Homo sapiens: one gene and its partners. The protein of the gene in region 1 purifies or fractionates together with the protein of each later gene. This does not show direct contact. Each region holds a gene or a part of one and is shown in the gene's direction. Other genes may lie near its edges.

Evidence for each region.
Region 2: the proteins of SGK3 (region 1) and TRMT1L purify together in Homo sapiens (affinity purification with mass spectrometry, with the first as the bait; one large-scale study listed by BioGRID). This does not show direct contact.
Region 3: the proteins of SGK3 (region 1) and CCDC186 purify together in Homo sapiens (affinity purification with mass spectrometry, with the first as the bait; one large-scale study listed by BioGRID). This does not show direct contact.
Region 4: the proteins of SGK3 (region 1) and BLVRB purify together in Homo sapiens (affinity purification with mass spectrometry, with the first as the bait; one large-scale study listed by BioGRID). This does not show direct contact.
Region 5: the proteins of SGK3 (region 1) and CTNNBIP1 purify together in Homo sapiens (affinity purification with mass spectrometry, with the first as the bait; one large-scale study listed by BioGRID). This does not show direct contact.
Region 6: the proteins of SGK3 (region 1) and SEPTIN2 purify together in Homo sapiens (affinity purification with mass spectrometry, with the first as the bait; one large-scale study listed by BioGRID). This does not show direct contact.
Region 7: the proteins of SGK3 (region 1) and ST13 purify together in Homo sapiens (affinity purification with mass spectrometry, with the first as the bait; one large-scale study listed by BioGRID). This does not show direct contact.

The regions. Positions count from the first base shown.
Region 1 is NC_000008.11:66,710,868-66,715,580, forward strand, and holds the start of SGK3 (serine/threonine-protein kinase Sgk3), read left to right. Parts: upstream 1-1,913; 5' UTR 1,914-1,966; intron 1,967-4,713.
Region 2 is NC_000001.11:185,118,467-185,122,681, reverse strand, and holds part of TRMT1L (tRNA (guanine(27)-N(2))-dimethyltransferase), read left to right. Parts: intron 1-2,172; coding exon 2,173-2,299; intron 2,300-2,410; coding exon 2,411-2,663; 3' UTR 2,664-4,215. UniProt on the Homo sapiens protein: Specifically dimethylates a single guanine residue at position 27 of tRNA(Tyr) using S-adenosyl-L-methionine as donor of the methyl groups. Dimethylation at position 27 of tRNA(Tyr) is required for efficient translation of tyrosine codons.
Region 3 is NC_000010.11:114,132,203-114,136,417, reverse strand, and holds part of CCDC186 (coiled-coil domain-containing protein 186), read left to right. Parts: intron 1-171; coding exon 172-270; intron 271-440; coding exon 441-527; intron 528-1,362; coding exon 1,363-1,505; intron 1,506-3,899; coding exon of another isoform or gene 3,900-4,026; exon of another isoform or gene 4,027-4,215.
Region 4 is NC_000019.10:40,451,980-40,456,194, reverse strand, and holds part of BLVRB (flavin reductase (NADPH)), read left to right. Parts: intron 1-4,215. UniProt on the Homo sapiens protein: Enzyme that can both act as a NAD(P)H-dependent reductase and a S-nitroso-CoA-dependent nitrosyltransferase. Promotes fetal heme degradation during development.
Region 5 is NC_000001.11:9,868,460-9,872,674, reverse strand, and holds part of CTNNBIP1 (beta-catenin-interacting protein 1), read left to right. Parts: intron 1-282; exon of another isoform or gene 283-422; intron 423-586; coding exon of another isoform or gene 587-610; coding exon 611-706; intron 707-1,397; coding exon 1,398-1,488; intron 1,489-4,215. UniProt on the Homo sapiens protein: Prevents the interaction between CTNNB1 and TCF family members, and acts as a negative regulator of the Wnt signaling pathway.
Region 6 is NC_000002.12:241,343,000-241,347,214, forward strand, and holds part of SEPTIN2 (septin-2), read left to right. Parts: coding exon 1-94; intron 95-752; coding exon 753-898; intron 899-3,166; coding exon 3,167-3,250; intron 3,251-4,215.
Region 7 is NC_000022.11:40,842,807-40,847,021, reverse strand, and holds part of ST13 (hsc70-interacting protein), read left to right. Parts: intron 1-2,112; coding exon 2,113-2,183; intron 2,184-4,215. UniProt on the Homo sapiens protein: One HIP oligomer binds the ATPase domains of at least two HSC70 molecules dependent on activation of the HSC70 ATPase by HSP40. Stabilizes the ADP state of HSC70 that has a high affinity for substrate protein.

The DNA.
Region 1 (4,713 bases):
AATTTAATTACAGTGAAAAAGTCCTTAGTAGTTTGTGAATATATTTACCTCCTCTAGCTTTTTGCAAAATCTAGCTATTAAATTGCAGCTCTCAGATTGTAAAGGCAAAATGCCTAACATGTTGTCTGTTGATCAAATGAACCCAGCCTGGGCAACACAGTGAGACCGTCTCGTCTCAAAAAAAAAAAGAAAATACATAAAATGTTTGTGGGAGGTGATCTCTGTGTGTGTGTGTGTGTGTGTGTGTGTGTGTGTGTGTGTGTGTGTTCTTCACAATAGGACAAATTTATCTAGAAATGTAATGGTTCCCAGATGTTTATTTTTTTAAAAAGTCAAGATGTGGTGATAGCCAGGTATTTGTCTCTAAAGTGAGAATGATGTTATTCCACTTGGAGTTTATTGACACAGAACTTCCTTTTGTCTGAGAAATCTTCAGCACTGTGAATATGGCTTTAATTAAGAGATACACTCATCACTTGTTGATTTTGTTACAAGGGAAGAACTCCTCTAATGTATGTGGATTGCTTTGTGGACCACAGTAAAACATATAAAGGACCACCGGCAATGTATTGTTTTGTATCTACTGCATTCTTATATTCATTTCTGAAAACTACTGTTTAGAAAGTTCTGTAGGATTACTGAAGTACAAAAAGTATTTGGATTCACAATCCACTTTTTAAAGAGAGGCCACATTGTGGTTATTGACATTAAAAATGAATGTCCTAACCCATACTTGTGGGGCTAAATCTTTGAATATCATTTTAAAACATGAGGAAATGTCTTCTGAATTTAGGGAAGTCACACATAGATCCCAGTTCCTCTAATAACCTTTGGCAGTTTATTTGTTCATAGATTTGTGGCAAATTCTCTGGAATCATATGATCTAAAGTACAAATCATTGTCTCAAAATCTAAGGCATGATATGCACATGGGAATCTTTAAGTACTTGTCTGAGTCTATCTTCAAGTGATATCTGATAAGACCTAAATTACAGTAGTGTTGTGGGACGAAGAAAACAACCCACTCTACTTCAAAATCTTAACCACTTGACTCCACATCCATTGAACCATGTAATTCTTAGTTCTCCACTCAGCTTCTCTATCTGTTAAAAGAGATAAACAGATCTAAAACGCAGCTTCTGTAATTCAAGAATGAGTAATAAGGAGCTGTAAAGTGTGCACTCAGCTGACTTGGAGATTAATGGGAATAAAAAAAAGAGTCAGTAGATCTAAAAAGATGTGTGGAAAGGAAATTTCTCTGCACACAGGATCTGCCAATTTGTGAAAGTTCTCGACTGTTTATAAACACAAGGGCCGTAACTCTGCTAATGACAAAAGTGGAAAACTGTCCAAATAATGCTAAATGAATCACAGTTGTTCTCAATTATTTGGATATTTAATTCACTCCTCTGAGTTTCCAGTTTACACCAAGCCAACCCCCCCAACACCACGGGCCCACCCGGGGGGTCCTGATCCCTGCACACACCAGGTCATCTCTGTTGGGCCCCGGCGCTCTGGCCCGCGCCGGTCTTGGGCCCCAGGGTAGCGGCCACTGCGGGCGGAGCAGAGGGAAACACCAGAGTCTGTGACTCCAGACAGGACCCACTGTGTCCTCTTGAACTTTGCACAGCGCGTGACGGGGGCAGACGGTGCACCGTGGCCCGGCCTTTCGCGGGGGTCCTCGGGGAAGAGAGAGGAGCGCGGGTTTCCTCGGAGGCCTGAGCGGGACGCAGCCTGCAGCCCCTCCCCGCACGGGCTGCCCCCGGCCCGCCGCTCGCGCCGCTCTGCTGGGATCCGGCGCCTTCCCCGGCTGTCCTCGGCCTCCCGCGCGCTCCGCGGGAGGAGCCGCCAGCGGCCGTGACGCGTCAAGGAGGAAACGCCGGCGCCCGGCGGCCCTGCCGGGAAGGAGGAAGCGCAGTGCGTTCGGCTCCGCGCCCGCCGCGCCGGGAGCAGCACCGCGGGGCCAGGTAGGTGCGGGGCCGGCGGGAGGGTCCGCGCGCCCGGGACTCCGACGGCGGCCCGGGGCGGGAGGAGACGGGGCGGGGCGAGGGCTGCCCGGGCCTCGGCCGCTGCCTGTCCTCGGAAAAAGCCGTACCTCCGCCCAGCCCCCGGCTCCCGGAGAGTTTGTGGTCTTTGTTTCCACGAGGTGAATTCAGATCCTGCCTCGAGATTCCTAAACGCCCAAGGGGCGTCGGTGGCTGGACCTTGTTAACCCCCACGCAGCCGCCGAGCCTGGAGGAACTGGGAACGCCGAGCAGGGAGACCCTATCTGAGGTCGAAAGTGGGTGCAGGTCACCTGCGAGGGTCGGGGAGGGGGCAGCCGCCAGAGTGGGGTGGATGGAATCGTTTAACCTGTTGTCAGCGGATCTGTAGTAAAAGACCTTAATACGTTGCGTCTTTTAAGTTCTCTGTAATTTGAACCCTTACGTCTCTTCAAGTGAATCTGGCCCTATTAATTCTCACAGTTTTAGCTTTGGAATGTACCCACAAGAAGTGCTTTGAGATTTTTAGATTCTGTCATTTTTAGTCATCGTTACTTGGAAAGAGAAAAGAGAAAGGAATCATCTCTTGAAACTTAAAACGCTTTCATTGAGTTGTGCACAGTGACTTCTGAACCATGAGTAGAATTTCAGTCCTGCACCAGAGACTACTTAGTGTGCACTTGGGTGCAAAATAAATACAGAGCACTGTAATTTCTAAATCTTTTGTCAAAGTGAAAAATAGACTGTTGTGTATTTTGATTCTCTCCCTTCTCACCAGATTGAGACTTCACCCAGCCAATCTGGGAGGTGCCTTTTTTTATTTACCAAACACTTACATAGCCCTTACTATGCGCTGGGCTCTTTCTAAGTTCTTTATAAATATTAAATCAAATTCTTAACTTATCATATTATAGCGGTTCTAGCAATGAAGAGGCTATCCATACTTTAGTTCCCCAAATGTCATTGGAAGAGCTGTAAACATTAGAGGAAGTTTTAGGCATGTTTTAGCACCGGGTGTGCCTTCTGGTCCCCTTGGCTACCACTTCTGTAAGACAAGCCACCACCCCAGCATTTCCCTGGGGTAAGGGAGCCTGGAGCTCCTGGGAATGCGACCTGTTCAAAGCAGATGTTGGCCAGAACCTGAATGACTTGTGTAACATGGTCTCTTTCAACTGCCGTTGTGCCCATCGGCTAACTCTGGAGACACCAGAACTTCCCCTTCTTTAACTGCCACTGCATGGAGCCTACTTTTGTTTTTGAAAAGAGCTTTGTTCCTGATCTGTTCGACACTGTTTATATGACATTATTTATATGACATAGTTTAGATATGAGGGTCAGATTGAACTTGAAATGTACTATAAAATAGAACATTTTTGTTTGCACACATCAACATAACAAATAACGTTTTGTAATTTTACTGCTATTTGCTCTTGGAAACATTGAATTGGTAGGTCAGCCTCATAGGTGTACCTTTTGTGATTTGCAGATATGCAGAGAATATTTTTTCAGAATAACATGCCCTCTTCAAATGTGCACCATTAGAGACCCAATGTGGTGACTAAGATAGACATGATTCTTGTTATTGTGACTATGAATGTAATGTCAAAATCTGCACATCAGACTAGCTTTCTGACTCCCTCACTCCCTTTCTGTGCCCCCCTCCCTTATCTCTCTCTCATATATTTAACTTTTCAGAGAGATGATTAAGTGAGCCGATAAGCCTTATTTAATAGGATTATGAAGTGTCTCTTGAAGCAAGAAGGCTCATGTTCCTCTGATATATTAATAATTTATGACACAACAGGCATTAGTGTCATTTGTGAATTCAGTTTAGTCGGATGACCCCTAGCATTTTCATGGCTTACAAAGTGCTTCCAGACATACTCCTTTACCTTTCAGAGAGATCTTGTATGGTTGATCTCTTAATTACTTTTTATTACCTGTTTTTACAGATGAAGAAACTGAGGCATGGAAATGTTAAAGTGCTTTAGCCTGGATTGCACAGCAGGTGAGAGGCAGAGCTTGAATGGAGGGCAGGTGTGTGGACAGTGCCTGGCACGTGCAGGCCTGTAATAAACATCTGTGGAATGAATGACTCCAAATGGCTTCAGATATCTTGCTCTTTCAAAACATGTCTCTCAAAATACCGTAGTAATTGATTTATGCCTGAGAGATTTCCAGGCCTAATCCAATGCCTCTCTCATTTCAGACAGTATCTAATACAGCACATTTTCTACAAAAAGGATGGGAATCCCTTTGGACTTATTTCTTAAGATTTGCCACCTCTGGTTTTTGAAAAAGAAAATAGGTTGGGTATTTTTTTCATCCTACCTTTTTTCTCTAGTTTTGAGAGTTTAGAACGGACACATGGTATTTATGTTTATGTTGACAGCTTGCTTTCTTTCTTTCTTTCTTTGTTTTTTTTTTGAGACAGAGTCTTGCTCTGTTGCCCAGGCTGGAGTGCAATGGCGCAGCCTAGGCTCACTGCAACCTCCGCCTCCCGGGTTCAAGCGATTCTCCTGCCTCAGCCTCCCGAGTAGCTGGGGCTACAGGTGCATGCCCCCATACCTGGCTAATTTTTGTGTTTTTAGTAGAGACAGGGTTTCACCATGTTGGCCAGGCTATTATCAAACCCCTGACATGATCAGCCTGCCTTGGCCTCCCAAAGTGTTGGGATTACAGGCGTGAGCCACCGTGCCTGGCCACAGCTTTCTTATCTTTCTAAACTACTT
Region 2 (4,215 bases), on another chromosome or scaffold:
TAGATTTAAGAGTATTATCCTATGCAGGCGTTGTTATATAAACTCAGCCAGGTCCCTCCCATTCAGCAAAATTATCTTAAATCCTTTTTAGAATAAAGTAAAACATAAATAAGCTTTAAAAATATTTTCAAAAGCCAAGAGCACAGTAGCACACACCTGTAATCTCAGCTACTCAGGAGGCTGAAGTGGGAGGATAGTGTAAGGATTGTGTGAGCCTGGGCAACACAGCCAAACTCCATCTCAAAAAAAAAATTTGTTTTTAATCTGTGAGCCTTTCTCATAAGTAAATTAAGGAAATTAGACTAATTTTTGTGGGCTCTTCTATAACTTTTAAATTATATGGTTATTCTAAGACCATTGGTCAACACATAAAATCTTAAAATGATAGTACTATGCAAACCCAAAGGAAAATAATTCATTCTGTCAAAGATACGTTATATGTTCATTGCAGTGCTATTCACAGTAGCAAAGACAGAATCAACCTAGGTGCCCATCATCAATGGACTGGATAAAGAAAATGAACATATGTACTAAGGAATACTATGCAGCCATAAGAAAGAACAAAATCATGCTCTTTGCAGCAACATGGATGGCACTCTAGGCCGTTATCCTAATAAAACTAATGCAAGAACAGAAAACCAAAGCCCCATGTTCTAACTTACAAGTGGGAGCTAAACTTTGGGTACTCACAGACATCAGATGGGAATAATAGACACTGGGGACTACTAGATGGGGGAGGGATGGGATGTGGCCTGGGCTGAAGAACCACCTGTTGGGTACTATGCCCACTGCATGGGTGCTGGGGTTGTTAGGACCCCAAACCCCAGCATTACACAATATACCCACGTAACAAACCTACACATATACCCTTTAATCGATAAAGAAAGTTGAAATTATTTTTTAAAAAAGAAGAAATTACCAGGCCAAAAAAAAAAATCTATATACTGCTGATGATACTCACTATTAACGTATTACATCAGATTTTTTGCCTCAGATGCTCCTAGAACTTGTACTAAATCTGGATATCTATCCTTTGACTAGGTGCCTCATTAGATTTCATGCAGTTTCAAATTTTAGATTTCAAATTATAATTCTGATTTGATGGATGGATCCCAGGTTGTCCTTTTTGCTTTATGTTTTTATGTAAAGAGGCAACAGTTCAGCAATAATTTATATTTATTTTGAATGTAATTTATTTTTATGTATCAACTTTGCCTTTTCAATACTTTTTTTTTTTTAAGAGACAGGGTCTCACTGTGTTGCTCAGGCTAGACTCAAACTCCTAGGCTCAAGCCATCCTGCCACCTCAGCCTCCCAAGTAGCTGGGACTTGGGTCCCAGTTACACAGGTGTACGCTACTGCTCCTGGCAGCTTCTGAATATTTTGCTTAAGCAGATGTTAATTACTTTCCCTGAAGAGATAAGATTTGACCATAACGTTCATATATAAATAATCAAGGGTTGAACACCAGGCAAAATCTCATTATAGTATTGGATATCTCAGTTGTTTTCATGTTGTGATTTTTGGAAGGATACAGTTCTAGAATCTTAGCTGGCCTCCTTTCACTCAAAATGAAAAAACTAAGTGCTGTGATGAGAAATAGGCAATGAGATCATAACATTGACCTTATGTCAGTTTCTGTGTCCAAACTCTCAAGACTTTGTGTTGTTTTTCTTTGTTTTGTGATTACTAAAGACCCACTGTGTATCCAATACTGATCACTCAGTAGAAATACAGGTATAAAAATGAAAGACATTGTCCTTAGGAACTTAGAATATAACTTGGGGAGAAAGGACTTACACACATTAAGGAACTATAAGAAAAGAAAAAAAAATGACAACTTAATCAAACTCTGAGTAGTGTAGTGTAGTATTAACAACAATGAAATGTATGAAGTGACTAGCCCCAGATTGACAGATGGCTTCCTACAGGAGACGAAATAGAGTGTGGCTTGAAGTTGAAGAAGGTAGAAAGGAAGTTCTGATTCAGCAGTTTAATATGAAAATTACATAAGTGAAGGACCGTGAAAATAGAATAAATTATAAGAATTAAGATTGGATAGTCAGGTTGAAATAATGTGTCAGGATTTATACTTGAGATAAATATATAGTTATAAAAGTATTTGGCTTGTAATTTTTAAGAGCATGCTAACTTTGTATGTGTATGTTGCAGGAAAGAGAAAAAGTAATGAAATGATCACAAATTTAGGCAAGAAGCAAAAGACTGATGTCAGTACTGAACATCCTCCCTTTTATTACAACATTCACAGACACAGCATTAAAGGAATGAATATGCCAAAGTAAGACACCCAGTGAATGACAAAGTATATATATTTTATATTTTAATAATATTGTGATTTAAATAAAAATACAAGAACCTGATTATTTTTTCTTTCCTTTCCTTTTTGCAGGTTAAAAAAGTTTTTGTGCTATTTATCTCAAGCAGGCTTTCGAGTAAGCCGAACTCATTTTGACCCAATGGGTGTACGCACAGATGCACCTCTGATGCAGTTTAAATCTATCCTTTTAAAGTACAGCACCCCCACCTACACTGGAGGACAGTCAGAAAGCCATGTCCAGTCAGCATCTGAAGATACAGTAACTGAAAGAGTTGAAATGTCAGTGAATGACAAAGCAGAAGCAAGTGGCTGCAGAAGATGGTAAACGTAGAGAAGAATTGGTTCTCAGGTGTCTGTATAGATGGCCTAATAGTTCTCTATACCAACTGTAGTTCTTTTTCTGTTCTTTCAATTCAGTAGAGTAAAAATAAAAAACAGTGTCATTTTCATTCAGAAACTGAGCAGTTTCTAACTTAGCTGGTTTGGGAGCTTTGCTTTCCAAGTTTTTTTTTGTTTTAAGGCAAACTTAAAATTTTAATGGAAACATTTCATATGAAGCCAAGTCTCACTGAGATCACCCTACTGCTTAATAATTCAGAAAATTTTCACATGCAAAGTGTTTGGAATTTTATGTATGTTATGAAAGCCATCTTTTACAATTCTTAATCACATCTCTGCCTAAACTGATTCATGATGTTTATGTTTTCCTGTTTGTAGTGTACAAAATGAAGCTGAAGGCTCACATGTTAAAATGACCCTGAATAGAATAGGAAGAACAATGTTCTTACAGGTCATAATGTATTTCACAATTAAAAAACTAAAATATGTACCCATTTTTAAGAAATCATACTTCTCTCCACATTGATCTTTTCATTTCTTACTAGCTTTTAAGAAATTAAATACTTGCCTGAGATAGAAATACTTTATTTTTGTAACTTTAAGGTCTAAATGACTAAACTTCAAAGTAAGATTTTGTCAGAATAAATTGAGACCATTAATCTAATATAATACTTGTTCATGAGCACTGAAATCCTGAAGAGGAGAGATTTGGTTATAAATTAAAAAGGTTGGGTGATCTTAAGTGCCTCAGTTAATGCACGTACAGTATTCATTTGGTTGGTTGTACTACCTCTCAGAAGTAAAATTTGTCACCTTATGGAATGAGAGTTTTTGGGTTTGGGGGTTGTTTTTTTGTTGTTGCTTGGTTTGGTATTTTTGGTTTTGTGTGTATTTGTATAAATTTTCTGTATAATTAGCCCAGGCTGATGTAACTATAAAAATTAGTTGAAAAAAAAAATATTGTTTCCTTAATGGAATTCTCACTTCATTTGAATATAAGATTTTGGATGAAAGGATTTGGTATAAAGTTTGGGTTTTTGTCTCAAGGATTTGATCCATATTTATCCCTAAATATTTCTTAAGGGATGTAACTTTTTATAACCATTAAGTGGGGGGAAGGGGGTGGAGGGGGTGGTAATAATTATAACTGAAAGGTTTAAATATACTACCTAAGAAAAAAGTACTTCTGTGACATATACAAAAAAATCTAGTGGATAGGCATTAGATGAATAGAGAATATTAATTTTGCAGAAATGAAGGAAAATCTCTTCGTGCTAGTACAGCGTATTCCCAAGAGAGTTTATTTTCCTTTCTCCAATTAATGTGGTCATAAATTTCGGTAAAATCAAGAAATAGGTGAAGTGCAAGCTAGTTTCTATAATGACCATTAAAAAAATTCTGCTGTGTAATTCTTGCCAGTTAAAATTATAACTTGCAAATGAGCAGAATAAATGAGGTTTTTTTCAATTAAAAATTACTATAAATCCAGGAGGCAAACTATTTTAGCACTCAGATTATCTGATTTAATACATATTATT
Region 3 (4,215 bases), on another chromosome or scaffold:
AAGATAAAATAAAAAAACTGTTCTTGGAGTTATTTCTAAACAGAACTTGTCTCTTATCCTAACGTAACAGAAATGTATATGATGCTACATTAGGATTAGAGACGAGTATTCTCAGGGCAAACGGGAAATGGGTTAAAAATTGTCACACTTTTTTTGTTTTCTTTCCACTAGGAGTCAGAAGAAATTAAATCAAATGAGCTTGATGCAAAGCTTAGAGTCACAAAAGGAGAACTTGAAAAACAAATGCAAGAAAAATCTGACCAGCTAGAGGTGAGTAGTTTTGCTCTTTATATATCCTAAGTTGCATAATAAATACAGAAAGAGAAATAGTGAGAACTTATTGCTATCTACTTTTAAGGCCTTTTGGAAGGAACAGGCAATAAATCTTAGATATAGTTTAGCACATTATGATTTGTTGTTTCTTTTAAACTTTTTTAAAGATGCATCATGCCAAAATAAAGGAACTAGAAGATCTGAAGAGAACATTTAAGGAGGGTATGGATGAGTTAAGAACACTGAGAACAAAGGTAATTCAGTCTTTAGTCATGAATCCAGAGGAAGGGTAAATATCTTAAATTTTGAATTCATTCTGATTTTTAAAGTGGTGGGGAAAGGACATTAATATAGAAATGTTCCATAATAAAGGAACTCAGTAGAGTAGAGGAGCAATTTCCTAGCAACTTCTTTTGTTGAAAGGAAAATGTCTTCCATGTTAGTCCCTTTGAAGTGTTTGCCAAACATTACTATTTCACAGCACATTTGCTGTGTCTATAGCTTATCCTTGGGCTTCTCATCTAAAGGCAGTCTCATCAACGAATCAATTGGAAAGATAGTTGGACCTTAGAACTGTGTCAGAAAATAACAGGAAGGCTATATTTTTCCTGGATATATTTAATAGATGGATAGTTTTAATGGCCAATAATCTGTTAAGTCCTCTTCGTGTTTATAGTCTTTATTGTAAGATTAGTATGTCTTCTAATATGAATATGAATGTGTATCATTCATTTATTTAGAAGTAGTCCTTTAACCACCCTGAATTTGAGGTCACTTAATAATTTTAAATTGTTTTTCATACACCTTCTTATTTGTTCTTCTTGCCAGTTTTTTGAGGTAGAGGAGATATATTCTTTTTCAGGTGAGGAGATGGTGATTCAGTAAAAAGTGAAATGACATGCTAAAACTCCCATGACTGAATCATAAGAAATCTGAGACTAAAAGCTAGGATTGTAAACTTCGCATTATATTTTCTTCACGTTAATGGTGCTTTAGAATTTTTAGATTATTCATATGTAACCACTATACAAAATAGTTTATAAAGAACAAGAATACATGGTTTGTAACTTGGTTGTGATCATTTGATAGGTGAAATGTCTAGAAGATGAACGATTAAGAACAGAAGATGAATTATCAAAATATAAGGAAATTATTAATCGCCAAAAAGCTGAAATTCAGAATTTATTGGACAAGGTGAAAACTGCAGATCAGCTACAGGAGCAGCTTCAAAGGTACAAAATGAGCAACTTCTGTTTGTATTAATAAGCAAGCTTTTAAATTTTATTTCAAGATTTTCTAAATGCAGTTATTGCATTAAACAAAAAATTTTACAATTTTACTAGCTGAAATTTTTAAATATTTTCTCTTTATCTGAACTTCTTTGGATTATCTTTTGAGTTCTGTCATGGCTTCTAAAAATCAAAGTTTATATTCCTTAAACATTGGTAGTGGCAATTTATAAGACAGAATAGGTTGAGTCTCTTATCCATTCCTTAGCTTTCAAATTCTGTTACTTATGCACAGTGTTTACTTTTTCTTCTAAAAGGTAAATCTTGCTCTAGATCTTCGCACGTGTGTAGCTTAAGATCCGGAGCTGACATTATTCCTTGGCTCCTTATAAAACCATTTAAGTAAACTCTACTTGTGACATTACCAGACAGAACCTGGATTCAGTTTGAAGCCAGATAGCTTCTTTTCCACACCTTGCTGATAACTAAGCTGCTGAGTGTTGCTAAAAAAATCCTTACCATCATTTAGATTGATTCTGCTAATAAATTCATGGTCACTAACCTGAACTGGAAATATTAATGCACCTAATCTTACCATGTGTCTTTGGTCAGAGGTTCTCCACCATCTTCTAGCATCTTTTCTAAACCCTACCATTTTCTTCACACTTCAGTTTTTCCTCTTACCTTTCTATTTACTCTTGGCAAGTGTTTACTTCTTCACAGAAAAAATGGGAGCTGTCAGGTGACAGTTGTCTCAACGTTTTGCCATCAGTCCCATGAACTGCCTGCATCTGCAGCCATATTTTCTGCTGTTATCATGGAAGAAACAATCTTGTTATCATGGAAGAAACTCCTCTGAATCAAATTAGTCTTTCTACTTCCGCTATGGATTTCATCTCTTCTGACTTTTTGGGTTCTGTCTTGATTATTCTTCTTTATCCTTTATGTCTTACCTTTCTCCACTTTCTTTTTCTTTCTACATTTAAACATAATTGTCTTTTAAAAATATCAAAACTCCTGTGGCTTTGCCCTGCCAGCTTTTCTCCTTTCCTTTGCAGCCAAACTTTATATAATCTTCTGTATTCATTCTCCGTTTCCTCACTTCCTATGTTCTGTACCTCTCCACTTCATTCTAGCTTTTACCCCAACATTTTATTAAAAATTACTGATGTATCCCTGCATATGGTAGACACATTTCAGACCCACCCTTGCTTGAATTCTTATCATCTTTTAACACTGTCGAATTCAGTTGTCTTTCTTGATAGGCTTGTTCCTTTGGCTTCATTTCCATCACATGCTGATGTTCCTCTCACCTTTTTGGCAACTCTCTCTCAATCTCCTTGGCAGGCTTCTCTTTCTCTCATAATGCCCTCTTGTTCTAATTTTATTGTAACTTTGGGTGATCCCAACTATTTTTATAGTATGCTGCAGGACTTTTGAGTCATTATCTTTAGCCCTTTTCACTAAGCTCCAGGCACAAGTATTAAAGATACCTCAAACTTTAGCATTTCCAAAATCGGTTTCTCTGTCCCATGCTTCTCCTCACATGTTCCTAGGATGAATGATGAGTGCAGCATCCATGTGACTGTCCAGCTTAGCAGGCTGGGGGCCATCCTCAGCTCTTCTTTCCTTCCCCTCACACATCTAACCAGTCACAAAGTATTAGTGATGCTAAGTCTGTAACATCTGTCAAGTCCATTCACTTTTTACTTCCCTGCTGCTACTACCATAGTCCAAGCTATTAGCAGCTCTCACCTGGAAAACTGCCACAGTTTGTATTTTTTCTGCTTATATCCTCTCTAATCTGTTTTCCACACTATGGTTAGTATAATCCTTTTTAAAAGGAAATTTCAAAACTCTTCATTGATTTCCCACTGCCTCAGAGATTGTCTAGTGAGTTCCATTGCCTTAGCATGGCTTGTAAGATTAGTGACCTGTCCCTTGCTGCTTCCATGCCTTCCCTTTTTTCACCCTTGTATTTCAGCTGTAGTTGATTAACAGATGTTTATGGATTGTTTCCTATTTCCCAAACCCTGTGTTAAGTGCTAGGGATATAGTACAGTCTTTCTCTTCATCAATATTGAACATCTGTTAGGACCAACAAGAAGCCTCTTATTCCCTTCCCAGTTTTTAGCACATACTGTTTGTTCCCTTTACCTGGAGCATATTTTGTTCTCCAGTAACTCCTGCTTTGCCTTTAGGTCAGGGATCAACCATGGCTTACAAAACAAATCCAGCCCACTACCTCTTTTAGTAAGTGAAGTTTTTTTGGAACACATCCACACTCATTCATGTAATATCTGTGGCAGTTTTCATAGTACAATGGCAGAGTGGAACAATTGCAGCAAAACCATATGACCCAGAAGCCTAACTTATTTACTATCTGATCTTTTACAGGAAAAGGTTGCTGACTCCTGCTTCAAGTATTAGTTTGAGCATCACTTACACTAGTTTAGGCAAACCCACTCTGTGCTTTTATCATAAAAAATGTTTTTTTACACATATAATTTCCACACTTGACTAAAAGCTCTTTGAAAGCAGAGGCCATGTTGGTCTTGCTCACTTTTCTTTCCAGCTCTTATTTCCTGGCATATATTAGGCATTTATAAATATTTGGATGAATGAATAGAAGTACCTTTATTAAGCATTTGACTAGATGAAAATTCCCAAACCATTAATTTAATGTCTTTTAATGGTTTATTTTTTCTTAAAT
Region 4 (4,215 bases), on another chromosome or scaffold:
CACACAATGTTTTTTTTCTGACCCATTTGAAGTTAGCTTACATACATCATGGCTGCTTACTTCAATGTGTAGGTCCTCAATATACTTTTTAACTTTTTATTATAAAAATTTTTAAACAGAAAAGTTAATAGTCGTGTGAACAACCATATTCCTTTTCTTTTTTTATTTTTAAGTTTGTAGCTATCTATCTATTTATTTATTTATTTTGAGACCGGGTTATAAGGCTGGCTAATTTTTGTATTTTTGGTAGAGATAGAGTTTCGCCATGTTGCCCAGGCTGGTCCCGAACTCCCGGACTCAAGCGATCCACCAGCCTCAGCCTCCCAAAGTGCTGGGATTACACCTGAGCCACTGCACCTGGCCAACAGCCATATTCCTGATTTTAAAATTGTGATTGTGTTTTGTAATTGGTTTATCTATGCACATACACATACACAAATAGATTTTGTTTTTGTTCTCCTAAACTATTTGGGTTTTTTGTTTGTTTGTTTTTATTTGAGACAGAGTCTCATTCTGTCACCCAGGCCGGAATACAGTGGCGTGATCTTGGCTCACTGCAACATCCACCTCCTGGGTTCAAGGGATTCTCCTGCCTCAGCCTCCTGAGTAGCTGGGATTACAGGTGCCTGCCACCACATCTGGTTAATTTTGTGTGTGTGTATTTTTAGTATAGATGGGGTTTCACCATATTGGGCAGGCTGGTCTGACCTCAAGTGATCTGGCCTCCCAAAGTGCTGGATTACAGGCATGAGCCACTGCGCCCAGACTTCCTAAACTATTTGAAATGGAGTTGCACACCCACAGACACCTTCGGCAAGTCCCAAGAAAAAGGACTTTTCTCTTCCAGCACCACAGTGCTATTGTCACACTTTAATTATCTTCCAGCCTCTAATTATTAGAGTTTAATCTTCCCTCCATATTCAAATGTCAAGGTAAAAGATTAGAAAGATTTTTGTCATCTAAGGAGCTTGGAGTTTATCCATTAGGGCTTGGGGAGGATTGTTTTTTATGGAGGCATCTGAGAGGATTAGAAAGAAACCCAGAGTAAGGCCAGGCACAGTGGCTCACGCCTGTAATCCTAGCACTTTGAGAGGCCAAGGTGGGCGGATTGCTTGCGTCCAGGAGTGCAGGACCAGTCTGGGCAACACAGCAAAACTCCATCTCTACAAAAAAAAAATACAAAAAATTAGCTGGGTGTGGTGGTACACACCTGTGGTCCCCAATACTTGGGAAGCTTAGGTAGGAGGATCCTTTGAGCCTAGAAGGCAGAGGTTGCAGTGAGCCGTGATGGCACCACTGCACTCCAGCCTTGGCTGCAGAGCAAGACCCTGTCTCAAAACACAACAAAACAGCCGGGTGCTGTGGCTCACGCCTGTAATCCCAGCACTTTGGGAGGCCAAGGTGGGTGGATCACGAGGTCAGGAGATTGAGACCATCCTGGCTAACACAGTGAAACACCGTCTCTACTAAAAATACAAAAAATTAGCCAGGCGTGGCGGCGGGTGCCTATAGTCCCAGCTACTCGGGAGGCTGAGGCAGGAGAATGGCGTAAACCCGGGAGGAGGAGCTTGCAGTGAGCTGAGATCGTGCCACTGCACTCCAGCCTGGGTGACAGAGCGAGACTGCCTCAAAAAAAAAAAGAAAAAAGAAACTAGGGGTAAGTTAGAGACTGGATTTGAGATTGTGAACTGGAGACTGGAGGCTGCAGACAAAAACCCACTTCACACTCTGCACCGCAGTTTTCTCATCTGTAAAGAGGAAATCCTAGACCAGGCGCAGTGGCTCACGCTGTAATCCCAGCACTTTAGGAGGCTAAGGCAGGTGGATCGCTTGAGGTCAGGAGTTCGAGACCAGCCTGGCCAACATGGTGAAACCCCGTCTCTACCAAAAATACAAAAACTAGCCAGGTGTGGTGGCACACGCCTGTAATCCCAGCTACTCAGGAGGCTTAGGCAGGAGAATCACTTGAAACTTGTAGGTGGAGGTTGCAGTGAGAATGATGTCATCATAGCTCGCTACCGCCTCCAACTCCTAGGCTCAAGGGATCCTCCTGAGTAGCTGAGACCACAGGCATGTGCCACCATGCCCATCTAATTTTTAAAATTTTTTTGTTGCGACAGAGTCTGGCTTTGTTGCCCAGGCTGGTCTCTGTGACACACCTTTTTATAACCACTAACATTACTCAAACTATTTATTTATTTCTTTTTGTTGAGACAAGGTCTTGCTCTGTTGTCCAGGCTGGAGTGCAGCGGTGCAATCACAGCTCACTGCAGCCTCGAACTCCTGAGCTCAAGCGATCCTCTCGCCTCAGCCTTCTAAGCAGCTAAGACCACAGGTCCCCACGCCTGGCTAATTTTTTAATTTTCTGTAGAGACAGGTCTCACCATCGTACCCAGGTGAGTCTAGAACTGCTGGGCTCAACTGATCCTCCTACCTCAGCCTCCCAAAGTGCTGGGATTACAGGTGTGAGCCACTCTGCCCAGCCTTTGAACAATTTATATCATCCCAGTTTGCACATGAGGAAACAAGAAGCTGGCCAGTGGTCGATCCAGTACTTGACTTTAGGCAAAACCCAAGCTCTTTAACTATTCACCAAACTGCTCCTAAAAATATTTAGCATAGTTCTTGGCTTGAGGTAAAAGTTCTATAAATGTCAGCTGGTGTAGCTTGGCCAAGTTATAGCTTGTTGAAAGCTAATTCCTGAACAAATATTTAGTAAGTACCTACAATGTTCCAGATGCTTCTAAGGGCTGGGATTGGAGCAGGAAATGTGATAGAGTCACAGGATAACTCTAGCGTGTGGTGGCAGGGGAAGGGTCCTAGGGAGAAAACAAGGCCCCAAGAAAAGGGATTGGTAAACTGGGCTGGGGGAGACAGGATTTTGCAATTTTAAACAGGACAGTCAAGAAAAGCTGCATGGAAAGGTGACCTTTGAGCAAAGTCTGCAAAGAAAACAGGGAGCCATGTGGCTACGAGAGGGAAATGGCAAAGGGTCCTGGGTCACACCTGTAATCGCAGCATTTTAGGAGGTCGAGATGGAAGGATCGCTTAAGCCCGGGAGTTCAAAACTAGCCTGGGCAACTTGGTAAGACCTCCATCGCTACAAAAAAAATGTTTTTTTCTTTTTCTTTTGAGACGGAGTCTTGCTCTGTCACCCAGGCTGGAGTGCAATGGCACGATCTCGGCTCACTGCAACCTCTGCCTCCCAGGTTCAAGGGATTCTCCTGCCTCAGCTTCCTGAGAATAGCTGGGATTACAGGCATGCACCACGACACCTGGCTAATTTTTGTGTTTTTTTTGTTTTGTTTTGTTTTGTTCTGCTTTGTTTTTGAGATGGAGTCTTGCTCTGTCTCCCAAGCTGGAGTGCCGTGGCGCGATCTCAGCTCACTGCAACCTCCGCCTCAAGGGTTCCAGCAATTCTCCAGCTTCAGCCTCCTGAGTAGCTAGGACTACAGGCATGCACCACCATGCCCAGCTAACTTTTGTATTTTTACTAGAGATGGGGTTTCACCATGTTGGCCAGGCTGGTCTCGAACTCCTAACCTCAGGCGATCTGGCCTCCTCAGTCTCCCAAAGTGCTGGGATTACAGGGGTTAGCCACCAGACCCGGCCTAAAAAAATTTTTTAAATTAGCCAGGCTTGGCCGGTATCATGCCATTGCACTGCAGCCTGGGTGGCAAGAGGGAAGGAAACTCTGTCTCAAAAAAAAAAAAAAATAGTGGGGTTTGGTGGCTCACCCCTGTGGTCCCAGCTCCTCAGGAGGCTAAGGCAGGAGGATCACTTCAGCCCAGAAAGTCAAGGCTGCAGTGAGCCGTGTTCACGCCACTGTCCTCCAGCCTGGACAACAGAATGAGACCCTGTCTCAGAGAAAATAAAAAAGAGAGGGAAATGCATCAGGGGCAGAGGAATCAGACATTGCCAAGGCTGGGAGGCAGAACCTGGCTGGAGCAGAGGCGTGTAAGAGAGAGTGGTAGGCAGAGTAGGCAAGGACGTCAGAGGGCTGATGGGGCCATATCAGGTGGGGCCTTGAGGGCTGGCCATGGGGACTTTGCTTCTACCCTGAGTGAGATGGAGCTATGGATGTGAACTGATAGGGGTGTTCACGGGCTCCTTGGGAGGAGGGAAGGAGGGGCTGAGAGACCAGGGAGTAGGCTGCTGGGCTGGTCCAGGCAAGAGGTAACAGTGGACAGGACCAGGCGGAGTGAGAAGAGGTCA
Region 5 (4,215 bases), on another chromosome or scaffold:
CAGCGTCTTTCCATCAAGGGACCCCTTGGAGCCCAGCCCAGGAGCCACAACCCTGGCCTCTTAAACTTGTCAGGGGCTTTTGCCGAGGGAGCTGTCTCAGTGTTTGGGGGCTGGGCACTGATCTCACAGTTTCTCGAGCCAAAGGCCCTAACCAGTTGCCTCTGATCCCATCACTTTTTTGCCCCTTGTGGAAGTTGTTCTGAAAACCTGGGACATTTGGGGCTTCATGCACCACGTGTCCTGTGGCTTGTAGCAGGAGCTTTGCTCTGGGGTGATTCACAGGTAGAAACAACCAGCAGTCCAGGTCATCTCAGTTTTCCTGGACGCAGCAGCTTCATGCACAGAGGCAGCAGGCAGGCCAGCCCTTGCAGCGCCTGCTGGAGAACAGAGCTGCTCAGTTCAGCCTGCTGGGACCAGCATGGGTGAGAAAGGAACCCAGCACCTCGCCACCTGCCCCATGCTCCCAGAAGGGAGACTGTGGGTGGAAAGCGGCTCCTGGGAGGAGTGAGGGTCACTAGCAGGTGTCATTGTCCCAGTATGTCACATCCTGATCTCTTCCCTTTTGATGCTGTTGCTTGCTCTGCAGGAGTCCCCAGAGCCAGGCAGGGGGATGAACCGCGAGGGAGCTCCCGGGAAGAGTCCGGAGGAGATGTACATTCAGCAGAAGGTCCGAGTGCTGCTCATGCTGCGGAAGATGGGATCAAACGTGAGTGCCTGTGGGGTGTCAGGCAGCGGGCCCCCAGGGAGGGTCTCCCAGGGAGGGGCCCTGCTGGGCTATTGGAGGGTGGAGCCACTGCGGCTGCCTCCTGCGGAGCCACGGGCTGAGGAGGGGCCGCTGGGCCTGTGGCTTGGCTCTAGGGCTGCTTCTGGCCCCCTAGGCACAGAGCCCAGCACGTCAAGTTCTGGGGACACCCGACACTGCCGGATTGGGGCCAGGCGGGTGAGGGTCTCAAGGCCCTGACCTTCCTTTTCTCCCCCTCACAAGCCCGAAAGTCTTCTCTCCCAGGGGGCAGCTCAGGGACAACTTGTCAGGACAGGAGCTGAGGGGGCAGCAGGCATGCATGTGCAGGGGTATTTCTCAAAAAGAGTGGAGGGACATGGAATCGCCCCTCAGCCTTCCGGGCAGGACTTGTGTCTTCCACTGGCCCTATACTAGAACAGACCTTAATCTCAGATTCAGTCTGAGTGGCAAAGGCTTTGGACCCCTGGACCAAGTTTAAGGAGGGTGGGAGTGGGGTGGGCTGGCCCTGAAAGCAAAGGGGTCAAATCTCAGAAACAGAAGCCCGAGCAGGGACCAAGCAGGGACCAAGCAGGCCTAGGCGGTGCCTCTAGGGGTGCAGGTGCCTTTCAGGGAACAGGTGCATGCTGCCCCTCACCACAGCTCTCTCACCCTGCAGCTGACAGCCAGCGAGGAGGAGTTCCTGCGCACCTATGCAGGGGTGGTCAACAGCCAGCTCAGCCAGCTGCCTCCGCACTCCATCGACCAGGGTGAGTTGGCGGCAGAGGGGCTGGGGCAGTGGCACAAGTCCCAGGGGCACCGACTTGTGGTTCCCTTAGAAAGCGTAGCTCCAGCCCTCTTTGATGGGTGATCCATGAGACCCAGGGCTGACTAGGAGGGGCTACAGCTCTCTCCACCCACAGAGCTGAGCCAGGAAACCTTCGGAGCCTCCCACCTGATCCCATCTCCTTCCTCAGGTGGGAGCCAAAGACTCTACAAGACAAATGGCAGGATCCCTTTCTAAGGCCTGGAAGAGGCAGGAAATGGAGATGTCTGGGGGCGCTCATAACTGCAGAGACTGATTATTGCATTTCTTTAACCTTTGGCCTGACCCCTACCCACCCAGCACCCTGTCCAGGAGAGAGAAACTGCCCTTGTGTGCTAGAACAATGCTGTCACTGTTGTCCTGAGCACAGACCACATTGTGGCTGGTGTGGTCCTGGCTGTGGCCAGGAGGAATGCCCCAAAGGCCTGATGTCTCCGTGCGCCTGAGGGAGTTCTGTCTTTTTGGGGTGACCTCAACAAGTCAGCATGGTAACAGGCAGGATGTGAGTGTTTGTTGTGTAGCAGGCACCGTTGTTTCATTCTATTGTAGGTAGCTACTATTTGTATTATTAATACTTCCACTTAACAGGCAAGGAAACTGGGATTTGGGAACAGTAAGCCACTTGGTCATGCAGCCAGGTGGTTACTGGGGAGTCCCGGGATGTACACCTGTGGCTGAGGAGCGCTTCACTGTCTGCCATCTTGCCCATAACCCACATGGCTACTGGACAGCTCCATGTCCCTTGGCTGCTCAGCAAGGTTCTCCTTCTCTAGAAGGCTTCTCATGACACAGAGGCCTAGTATTCTGACCAGCATCTCCATAGAGTCCTTTCCTTTTATTCTCTTTATGCTTTGTTGGAATGATTGGCCATGAAATATTACAACCTGTGGCATGTCCAGACGCGAGCGGGCCCCCGAAAGCAGAGTGCTGACGGCTGCGTTTGCTGTGCTTTGAGGCTGGCATGCGGGGCCTGACCTAGATCACCAGCCAGCCCTTGTTCTCCTGGATGTCTTAGGGCTCTGTCCTGGCACAGGGGCCTGTTCCCAAGCACCGATGCTGGGTGTGACCTGGCTTGTGCACCCAACTCAGCAGAAACCTTCCAGGCAGTGGCTCAGGCAGCTCCCTGGGACAGCAGCTCACCACGCACAACCTGCCTGGGTGTGTCTGCCCAGGTGTGCCTCCTGGATCATGCGGCAGCCTGTTCTATGTGGCGTCGGCTCCCGCCCCATCCTGGGATCTCTTGGGTGAGGTCTCTTCTCTTCCAGGGCTAATCTGGGTTTCTAGCATGGCACCCTCTACCATGGCTTCTGACTCATGTCAACCTGAAACCTTCAGGCTTCTGAGTCCCTGGAGACTCACCTTCCTTCCCACTTAGTCTTGGTCACTGAGTTAACCTGAATTTGAGCTCGGATGGTAAGAAAGCCTCCAGTTGAATACTCTTGGGAAAAAATCAAAATAGGAGACATCAAAATGTAGGACCATATGTCAGTATAAAAAGCAGCAACAGGCCGGGTACGGTGGCTCACAGCTGTAATCCCAGCATTTTGGGAGGCCAAGGCAGGTGGATCACCTGAGGTCAGGAGTTCTAGACCAGCCTGACCAACGTGGCGAAACCCCATCTCTACTAAAAATACAAAAGTTAGCTGGGCATGGTAGCATGCAGGTGTAATCCCAGCTACTTGGGAAGCCAAGATCTCACCGCTGCACTCCAGCCTGGGCAGCAGAGCAAGACTCCGTCTCAAAAAACAAAACAAAACAAAACAAAACCCCAGCAACAACACACATACACACAAGACACAAGCTGTATATGCACATAGAAAAAAAAGCTGGTGGCCAGGTGCAGTGGCTCACGCCTGTCATCCCAGCACTTTGAGAGGCCATGGCAAGAGGATTGCTTGAGCCCAGGAGCTCAAGACCAGCCTGGGCAACATAGGGAGACCCTCTCGCTACAAAAAATACAAAAACTAGCTGGCTGTGGTGGCACACGTCTGTAGTCCTAGCTACTAGGGAGGCTGAGGTGAGAGGATCGCTTGAGCCCAGGAGGTTGATGCTGCAGTGAGCCATGATCGCACCACTGCACCCCAGCCTGGGCAACAGAGGGAGACTCTGTCTCATAAATTTAAAAAATTTTTAAAAGACAAAGAAGCTGGTGGAATATATACCAGACTGTCAGAAATTTTGTTTTTGACAAGGGGTGCTGGGCGTGGTGGTTCATGCCTGTAATCCCAGCACTTTGGGAGGCCAAGGTGGGCAGATCACCTGAGGCCAGGAGTTCAAGACCAGCCTGGCCAACATGGCAACATCCTGTCTCTATTAAAAATACAAAAATTAGCTGAGCATGGTGGCAGGTGCCAGTAGTCCCAGCTACCCAGCTACTTGGGAGATTAAGGCAGGAGAACCGCTTGAATCTGGGAGGCGGAGCTTGCGATGAGCCAAGATCACACCACTTTACTCCAGCCTGGGCAACAGAGCTAGACTCTGTCTCAAAAAATAATAATAATAATAATTGTTAGGGGATAGGACTATATAAGAAACTTTAACTTTCCAAGTCACACATTTTTGTAAAACTAATATTTTAACATTGTACATTTGTTTCTTTGTCATAAGGGAAAGTTAAAAAAAATATTTTTAGGAGAACTCTTGCCTAGCCGAACCCACAGTTAAGAATAAA
Region 6 (4,215 bases), on another chromosome or scaffold:
TGAAATTGAAGAACATAACATCAAAATCTATCACTTACCTGATGCAGAATCAGATGAAGATGAAGATTTTAAAGAGCAGACTAGACTTCTCAAGGTAAGAACTGGCTTCAGATCCACAACATAAATAACTCCTGTTTACTGTTGTCCATGTTGAGGTGAGAGAGATTGCCTGGGTATGTTCAGTTACGAGAGTATTTTTGCTTTCAATATATTTTAAGACCTCATGCAGTGGCTCATGCCTATAATCCCAGCACTTTGAGAGGCCAAGGCAGATGGATCAGTTGAGGCCAGGAGTTCCAGACCATCCTGGCCAACATGGTGAAATCTCATCTCCATCAAAAATACAAAAATTAGGTGGATGTGGTGGTGCACACCTGTAGTCCCAGCCACTCGGGAGGCTAAGGCAGGAGAATCACTTGAACCCAGGAGGCAGAGGTTGCAGTGAGCCGAGATCGCGCCTCTGCACTCTAGCCTGGCGACAGAGCAAGACTCTGTCTCAAAAAAAAAAAAAATTTGATACAGCTATCACCTAAAGCTTAGAAATTTTATTGTAGGTTTAATTTGTTTTCGTACAATTTGTCCCATGTAGAAAGTATCTGACACTTTTCAAGAAAATGTTACATACCCCCAGCTTTCCAATTCAGTTTTGTAGTCAACAGCAATGTGTTAAGTCTGTGCTAATGTTCTCGTGTTGCCAGTGAACTCTGGGGTTCCCTGTGTGGAGCCTGTCTACTCTGTGTGTCTCTTTCTAGGCTAGCATCCCATTCTCTGTGGTTGGATCCAATCAGTTGATTGAAGCCAAAGGAAAGAAGGTCAGAGGCCGCCTCTACCCCTGGGGTGTTGTGGAAGTGGAGAACCCAGAGCACAATGACTTTCTGAAGCTGAGAACCATGCTCATGTAAGACATTTGGTGTGTTCCTTCTGGCAGAATTTGGCGTGAAGAATATGGATTTCAGACGGGGTGTACACTTGGCCCCCAAGATAGTTGCAGCCAGCAGCTTCATTGCCGCCCTCAGTGTTTCTCACATCGCAGAAGTGGTGTGGGGCTGTTGCAGATTGGTGCTGAGAACCCTCACCCAGGGGCCCTCTGTGGCACTACTAAACTAGCGCTTCTGCCTGTGGCCTGTAGCCTGCAGTACCTTTCCTTCTTGCTAAGATCTTACATCTTTGATGTTAAAAGGAGAAAAGGAGACTAGAACCTAAACTGGGGTCTGAGAGGTCCCCAGTGCTGGTAAGGAAACAGTCAGGCTGTATAGGCCCCTGGTCCACTGCTCCAGGCTGAGCCACCCCTGGTGCCCTGCTCACCAGTCTGAGACTCATTGTATGGCCCTGGTTAGCTTTTTGTGTCTTCCATTTATTATTAATAGCAATTACAGACCTGACTACAAAAATAGTCTTCTTTAAAAATGAATTTCATGGCTGGGCGTGGTGGCTCACACCTGTAATCCCAGCACTTTGGGAGGCTGAGGCAGGCAGATCACGAGGTCAGGAGTTCAAGACCAGCCTGACCAACATGGTGAAACCCCATCTGTACTTAAAGTGCAAAAAATAAATTAGCCAAGCGTGGTGGTGCGCACCTGTAATCCCAGCTACTCAGGAGGCTGAGGCAGGAGAATCACTGTTGAACCAGGAGGCAGAGGTTGCAGTGAGCCAAGATTGCACCACTGCACTCCAGCCTGGGCGACAGAGCGAGACTCTGTCTCAAAAAAATAATAAATTAAATAAATAAATTTCACATATTGTAACATGCATACATTGCTTTTACTCTTGAAAAAAGAGGCTGAGGCCGGGTGCGGTGGCTCATGCCTGTACTCCTGGCATTTTGGGAGGCCCAGGCGGGCGGATCACTTGAGGTCAGGAGTTTGAAACCAGCCTGGCTGACATGGTGAAACCAGCCTGGCCGACATGGTGAAACCAGCCTGGCCAACATGGTGAAACCCTGTCTCTACTAAAAATACAAAAAAATTAGCCGAGTGTGGTGGTGGGTGCCGGTATTCTCAGCTACTTGGGAGGCTGAGGCAGGAGAATCGCCTGAACCTGGAGGTGGAGGTTGCAGTGAGCCGGGATTGCGCCACTGCACTCCAGCCTGGGCAACAAGAGCAAGACTTCATCTCAAAAAAAAAAACCAAAAAGAACAGGCTGAGAGTATTGCTTAAACTATACCTCTTTAATCAGAGGACTTCAAAGAATGACTGATGTGGATAAATCAGTGTTTTGATTAGCTGAAAGTCGCTACATATTTGCCGCATGTCTCACTTAGTTTAGCAATTTGTAGTGAGTTAAAATAAGTAAGCATGTTACCATCCAAGCTGTGTCAAACACAATTTAATGGTTGTGTAAGAAGTTAAGCGCACTCAGCCCCTCCAGGGCTGCATCCTTGTGGCTATCCTGATCCCCATTATTGAGGGGGGTGTAGAGGCTGAAGACAGGGTTTGGGGACTTTACTTTAGTGTCAGTTGTGTGTTTCTCACAATGAGGTAGAGTGAGCCACTCCTTGGCTATCTCAATCCATTTCCCTGGATCCTGAATCAATAGGAACGTGTTACAATGTTTGCTCATTCTTGCCTGCTTTTAAGTATTTTGAATAAGCTAGGCAATTAAAAAAAATTTTTTAAGAGTGCTTCATAAGATGAATGGAAGGTTAAGTTGCTGACTAATATTCTTGGATCCAGAATATTAGTCCTTCACTTTATGGTCTTGTACATAGCTTAAGCTAACCAACTCTTTTTTCTCATATGAGAGTAATATATAAATTTTGAGTTATAGGAGGCATGAATATTTTCATTACATTTTCCGTAAGTCCTTTTAGAAGAGTGTCTTCTATTTCAGACATTGTTGACCTGAAAATCTCTTAAAATCTGTCTGCCATCCTGTGGTAGTGATGGCCTCACACAGGGGTGGCAGTGCCTCTAGCAGAAATCCCCCTGAGAGACTCAGTCGAGACCTGTGTTTGTATATCATTTATTGGGGAAGAAAGGGAGAGCTACACCTCACTAGACATTTCCACGGCCATACTCATTATCCTGAAATCCCAGCAGCTTTATGTACAATTTACCAAGTAATTTTAATTACTGCTATTTCTTCTATGTACTTGATGGGTGGTTTTTTTTCTCATGAGAATGTCATGTGCATGATGCCACCTTGGTGCATTCCTCTTCTCTTTCAGCACCCACATGCAGGATCTCCAGGAGGTGACCCAGGACCTTCATTATGAAAACTTCCGTTCTGAGAGACTCAAGAGAGGCGGCAGGTCATCACACTGTGCCCCTTTCTCTGTATTGTGTCACCCTGAGCCACAATGTTCCTCCTCCTCTATGTGTTCAGCTCAGCCTTCTTGACCATTAAGCAACATGGTTTGGTTTCCTACTCAAAAGTTATTATAAAAGAGTTGTTAATTTAATCAAATTATGCTCTTTTAGCCTTTTTAAGAAAAAGTACATTTAATGATATGCACGTAAAAACTTTAGGCCAGGCACGGTGGCTCATGCCTGTAATCCCAGCACCTTGGGAGACCAAGGCAAGGTAGATTGCCTGAGCGCAGGAGTTTTGAGACCATGAGATTACATGGTGAAGTCCCATCTCTACAAAAATTTAAAAAAAAAAAAATTAATTTAGCCGGGCATGGTGGCACACACCTATAATCCCAGCTACTCGGGAGGCTGAGTTGGGAGGAGCAGTTGAGCCTGGGAGGTGCAGTGAGCCATAATTGCACCACTGCACTTTATCCTGGGCAATAAAACAAGACCCTGTCTCAAAAAACAAACAAAAACTTTAGATGGAAAGGCCAGAGGCTTGTGTCGAGTTCTCCTTCAAAAGCATCACTCTGTACGTGAGGACAAACTTGTTGCCATTAGGAAACTGCAGCACCTGAGTTAAGGGTGAGGCCAGGATGAGTGGCATCCAAGCAGCCAGTGGCCGTTGAAGCAGCAGCTTCGATCCTCGCAAAGTCCTGCAGCCATCCTCACTCACCTTTTCTTTTTAACCATTCTAATATGTTTTTATATAAGTTTTCTGGGAGGCCAAGGCAAGTGGATCACTTGAACCCAGTAGTTTGAGACCGGCCCTGGCAACATAGGGAGACCTCGCCTCTATAAAAATTTTTTTTAAATTAGCCAGATGTGGTGGTGCATGCCTGTGGTCCCAGCTACTAGGGGGAGGATTCCTTGAGCCCAGTAGGTCCAGGCTGCAGTGAGCTATGGTCGCACCACCACGCTC
Region 7 (4,215 bases), on another chromosome or scaffold:
TTGTTGTTTTTTTGGGGTTTTTTTGGAAGACTTGAGTTTCGCTCTGCCACCCAGGCTGGAGTGTGGTGGCACAGTTTCGGCTCACTGCAACCTCTCCCTCCTGGGTTCAAGCGAGTCTCCTGCCTCAGCCTCCTGAGTAGCTGGGACTACAGGCGTATGCCACCATGCCTGGCTAATTTTTTTGTATTTTCAGGAGAGACAGAGTTTCACCATGTTGGCCAGGCTGGTCTCAAACTCCTGACCTCGGGTGATCTGCCCGTCTTGGCCTCCCAGAGTTCTGGGATTACAGGTGTGAGCCACCACGCCTGGCCTGAATCAAATTATCTTTGATATCATTAGAGGTCTTACATTCTACTGGCAGTTGTTTGAGTGCTAAATTGAAGATCTTTTACTTTTTATAAAATGCCTCTTTAGTCTTACTTTCTACCAGTTTCTAAAACTACAATAAATTTTTTAACCAACTCTCCACCTAAAAGTGTTTTCTTTTTTGTATACAAATCAAACTTTGATAGACAAGCTTAGTTGCTGTTAAAAAATGGATTAAAATTTTTTTACCGTGTTAAAGGGCATAAACTTTGAGCTATAATCTGAATAAATTCCAGAGATCCAGTATACAGCATGACTATAATACTGTATACTTGAAATTTGTTAAGAGACTGGATCTTCAGTGTTCTCACCAAAAACAAATAAATATGTGAGATGGATAGTTATTAATATGATGGGTGAGAATCATTTCATTATGTGAGGTGCAGTAAAGTGAAACACAATAAAATGAGGTATGCCTGAGGTCAGGCACGGTGACTCACACCTTTAATCCCAGCACTTTGGGAGGCTGAGGCGGGTGGACCACCTGAGGTCGGGAGTTGGAGACCAGCCTGACTAACATGGAGAAACCCCATCTCTACTAAAAATACAAAATTAGCCAGGTGTGGTGACACATGCCTGTAATCCCAGCTACCTGGGAGACTGACGCAGGACAATTGCTTGAACCTGGGAGGCAGAGGTTACGGTGAGCCAAGATTGCGCCACTGCACTCCAACCTCGGCAACAAAAGCGAAACTCCGTCTCAAAAAACGATATGCCTGTATGTTAAAACATCGCATTGTACACCATATACATATATGTATATATATAGTTTGTCAGTCATGCGTCAAGTTTTGTTGTTGCTGGACAGTAATTCTGATTTTAGGTGGGTGATTTTAAATTTTTTTTTTTTGACTAAGGAAACTTCTTATCAAATTAACTATTTGCAAATGTGTTCTTTTTAAATGATACGTGCGTGTGTGTGTGTATATATATATAAAACTCGTTTTCCACTTGCAACAAATTACAGTTGTCATTTAACTGACAACTGTTAAATGACAATTTGAAAAGCAAGATACTGCTTTTCATTCTTTACTGTTTTGGTTGTAAGTACTAGCTTTGGTCACTACTGTACATATGGAAACTAAATTTATTTTTAAATCTAGCCTTGGTACTTGATTCTGCATCAGTAGTAAGCCTTTATTTTAAAATTAAAACTTGTCCATGCTACTTTTAAAAATGAAAATAATTAGGGACCAGGTGCAGTGGCTCATGCTTGGAATCCTAGTGCTTTGGGAGGCCGAGGTGGGAGGATTTCTTGGACAACATAGTAAGATCCTGTGCCCCCCCCAAAATTATTTTAATTTTAAAAAAGGAAAGTAATGAATGTAATTATATTAAAATATTTTGATTTACGTTGAAGTATCACTGTAGCTTACCTGCATATTTTTGAAAAACATAGTACATCAGTGTGTAGAAAAAAATTATTTGAACTAAATCAGTTTGTTGACAATGGTGTATTTATATACAATGACTAAATCAGTGGTGTATTTATGTGTAATACTAGAAACTGCACATGTCAACAACCCCACTACAACCTGATAATAAATATCTTACATGATGTGACAGTTAACGTAAAGTGTAGTCTTACCAAAGTAACGAAATGTTTAATGGGAACATATTTTAAAATGCATCAATACTTAAAATAATTAATTGTAGTAGTCATAGTATGTCAGTTTTTAATAATCTTGGGAGTGGCTACTATATTGTACGGTGCAGGTCTTATTGTCATTTTCTCGACTTTGGCAGAAATTGATAAAGAAGGTGTGATTGAACCAGACACTGATGCTCCTCAAGAAATGGGAGATGAAAATGCGGAGGTAAGTTCGGTGACTTGATTTCCTGCTTGTTCTAAGAAATGTGAAAGGTCCTGCTGTTGCAATGATTTTATGACACGATTCTTCCAGGAAAAGCGCATAGTAAATCTTTCTCTGACTTCAGGCGTTTTAGGCAAGCATTGTATTTTACTACTTAAAATACTAATGAAAATAAATACTGTTACTTTCTGTTTTATCTGTTTTTTAAGTTTGCATCTGGTGTGACTGCTTGCACTGTAACGCAGAATTCACTTAAAATACATACCTATTAGTGGAGTTGCTCTTGATGGAATATCTAATGCCAAATTGTATTACAGAATGGTTTGTCATAACAGGCCCTCAAGGGAGTGAAAATTGGTTCTTGGGAGGAGGGCTTAAAAAAAATTCTATATATTACAATGGTTAGTGGTCCTCCAAAGACTCATAGAATATTAATATGTAGTGTATCTGTGGTATTAAAATTGGGGATATGGAAATGAGGAAAAGATGTCTAAAAAGGCTCCTTAGTGTCTGATAAAAATTTGAGAAACACTCTAATATAGTAATAGCAGTTTTAAAAGATTGGTTTTTATCCTCAAAACTTGATATTATCAGATTTCATCTTTGCCAAGTATTGTGGGAAATGGTATCTTTTTGTGGCTTTTAATTTGCATTTTCCTGGCCAGACAGGGTGGCTCACGCCTGTAATCCCAGCACTTTGGGAGGCCGAGGTGGGTGGATCATCTAAGGTCAGGAGTTTGAGACCAGCCTGGCCAACATGGTGAAACCCCGTCTCTACTAATAATACAAAAATAAGCCAGGCATGATGGTGCACGCCTGTAATCCCAGCTACTTGGGAGGCTGAGGCAGGAGAATCACTTGAACCCAGGAGGCAGAGGTTGCAGTGAGGTGAGATCGCACCCCTGCACTCCAGCCTGAGCGACAGAGCAAAACTCTATTTAAAAAAAAAAAAAAAAATGCATTTTCCTGATTCCTAATGAGGCTGAGCATATTTAAATGTTTATTGGCTGTTCACTGGCATTTGCGAACTCCTGTTTAAACTTTTTCCACTTTTTGCTGGATCTTTTTCTTACTGCTTTGTATTTCATTTCAATATTCTGGATGCTAATAATTTGTTGCTAGTGCTGCATATATTTTCTGCTAGTTTGTGACTCATCTTCACTCATCTTTCTTCATGTTGTTTCAAAAATAGTATCTTTTAATGCAGATATTTTCTGCTTTATTACTTTGAGGTTATAATTGCTGTAGTGCATTGCTTTTTCTCTTCTGAACATTTTATACACTCACCTTTCACCTTTAATCTACCGGTCCCACCAAAACTAAAATACACTGTTTCTGAATATTGTGGGTCTGTTTCAGGAGTTTATTGTTCTGCTTGTCTATTTTTTTTCTGTTCACTAATGCCACATCGTCTGATACTAAGTCTTGTTATTTTGTAGAACAAGGACCCCCAAAACTTTTTAGTCTTTTGGCTGTTCTTGGCTTTTTGTTTTTCCAAGTAAATTTTAGAAATAGGTTGATCAAGTCTCCCCGCTTCCATTGGTTTTTTTCCCCTTTGTTAGAATTGTGTTAAATCTAAATCAAGTTCGGGAAAAGATATATCTCCTCACCATTGAGATAAACTATCCATAAATAATGTTATCTGCCCAATTTTTAGGTGTTTTTAAAATATTTTAATAACTTACTAACGTGTTCCCCATAAGTCTTGTGCTTTGTTTTTTTGAGACAGTGTCTCACTCTTCCATCCAGGCTGGAGTGTAGTGGTACAATCATAGCTCACTGCGCCCTTGACGCCCTGGGCTCAAGTGATCCTCCCACCTCAGCCTCCTGACCAGCTGGGACTATAGTCATGCACCACCATGTCCAGCTAGTTTTTTATTTTTATTTTTAAAAATTCTTAGTAGAGACAAAATCTCAAACTCCTGGCCTTCCAGAGTGCTGGGATTACAGGTATGAGTCACTGCACCTGACGTAAGTCTTGTGCATTTTTGTTAAGAACAAATGTAAGTACTTTCTGTCACCATTTGTCAAAGGA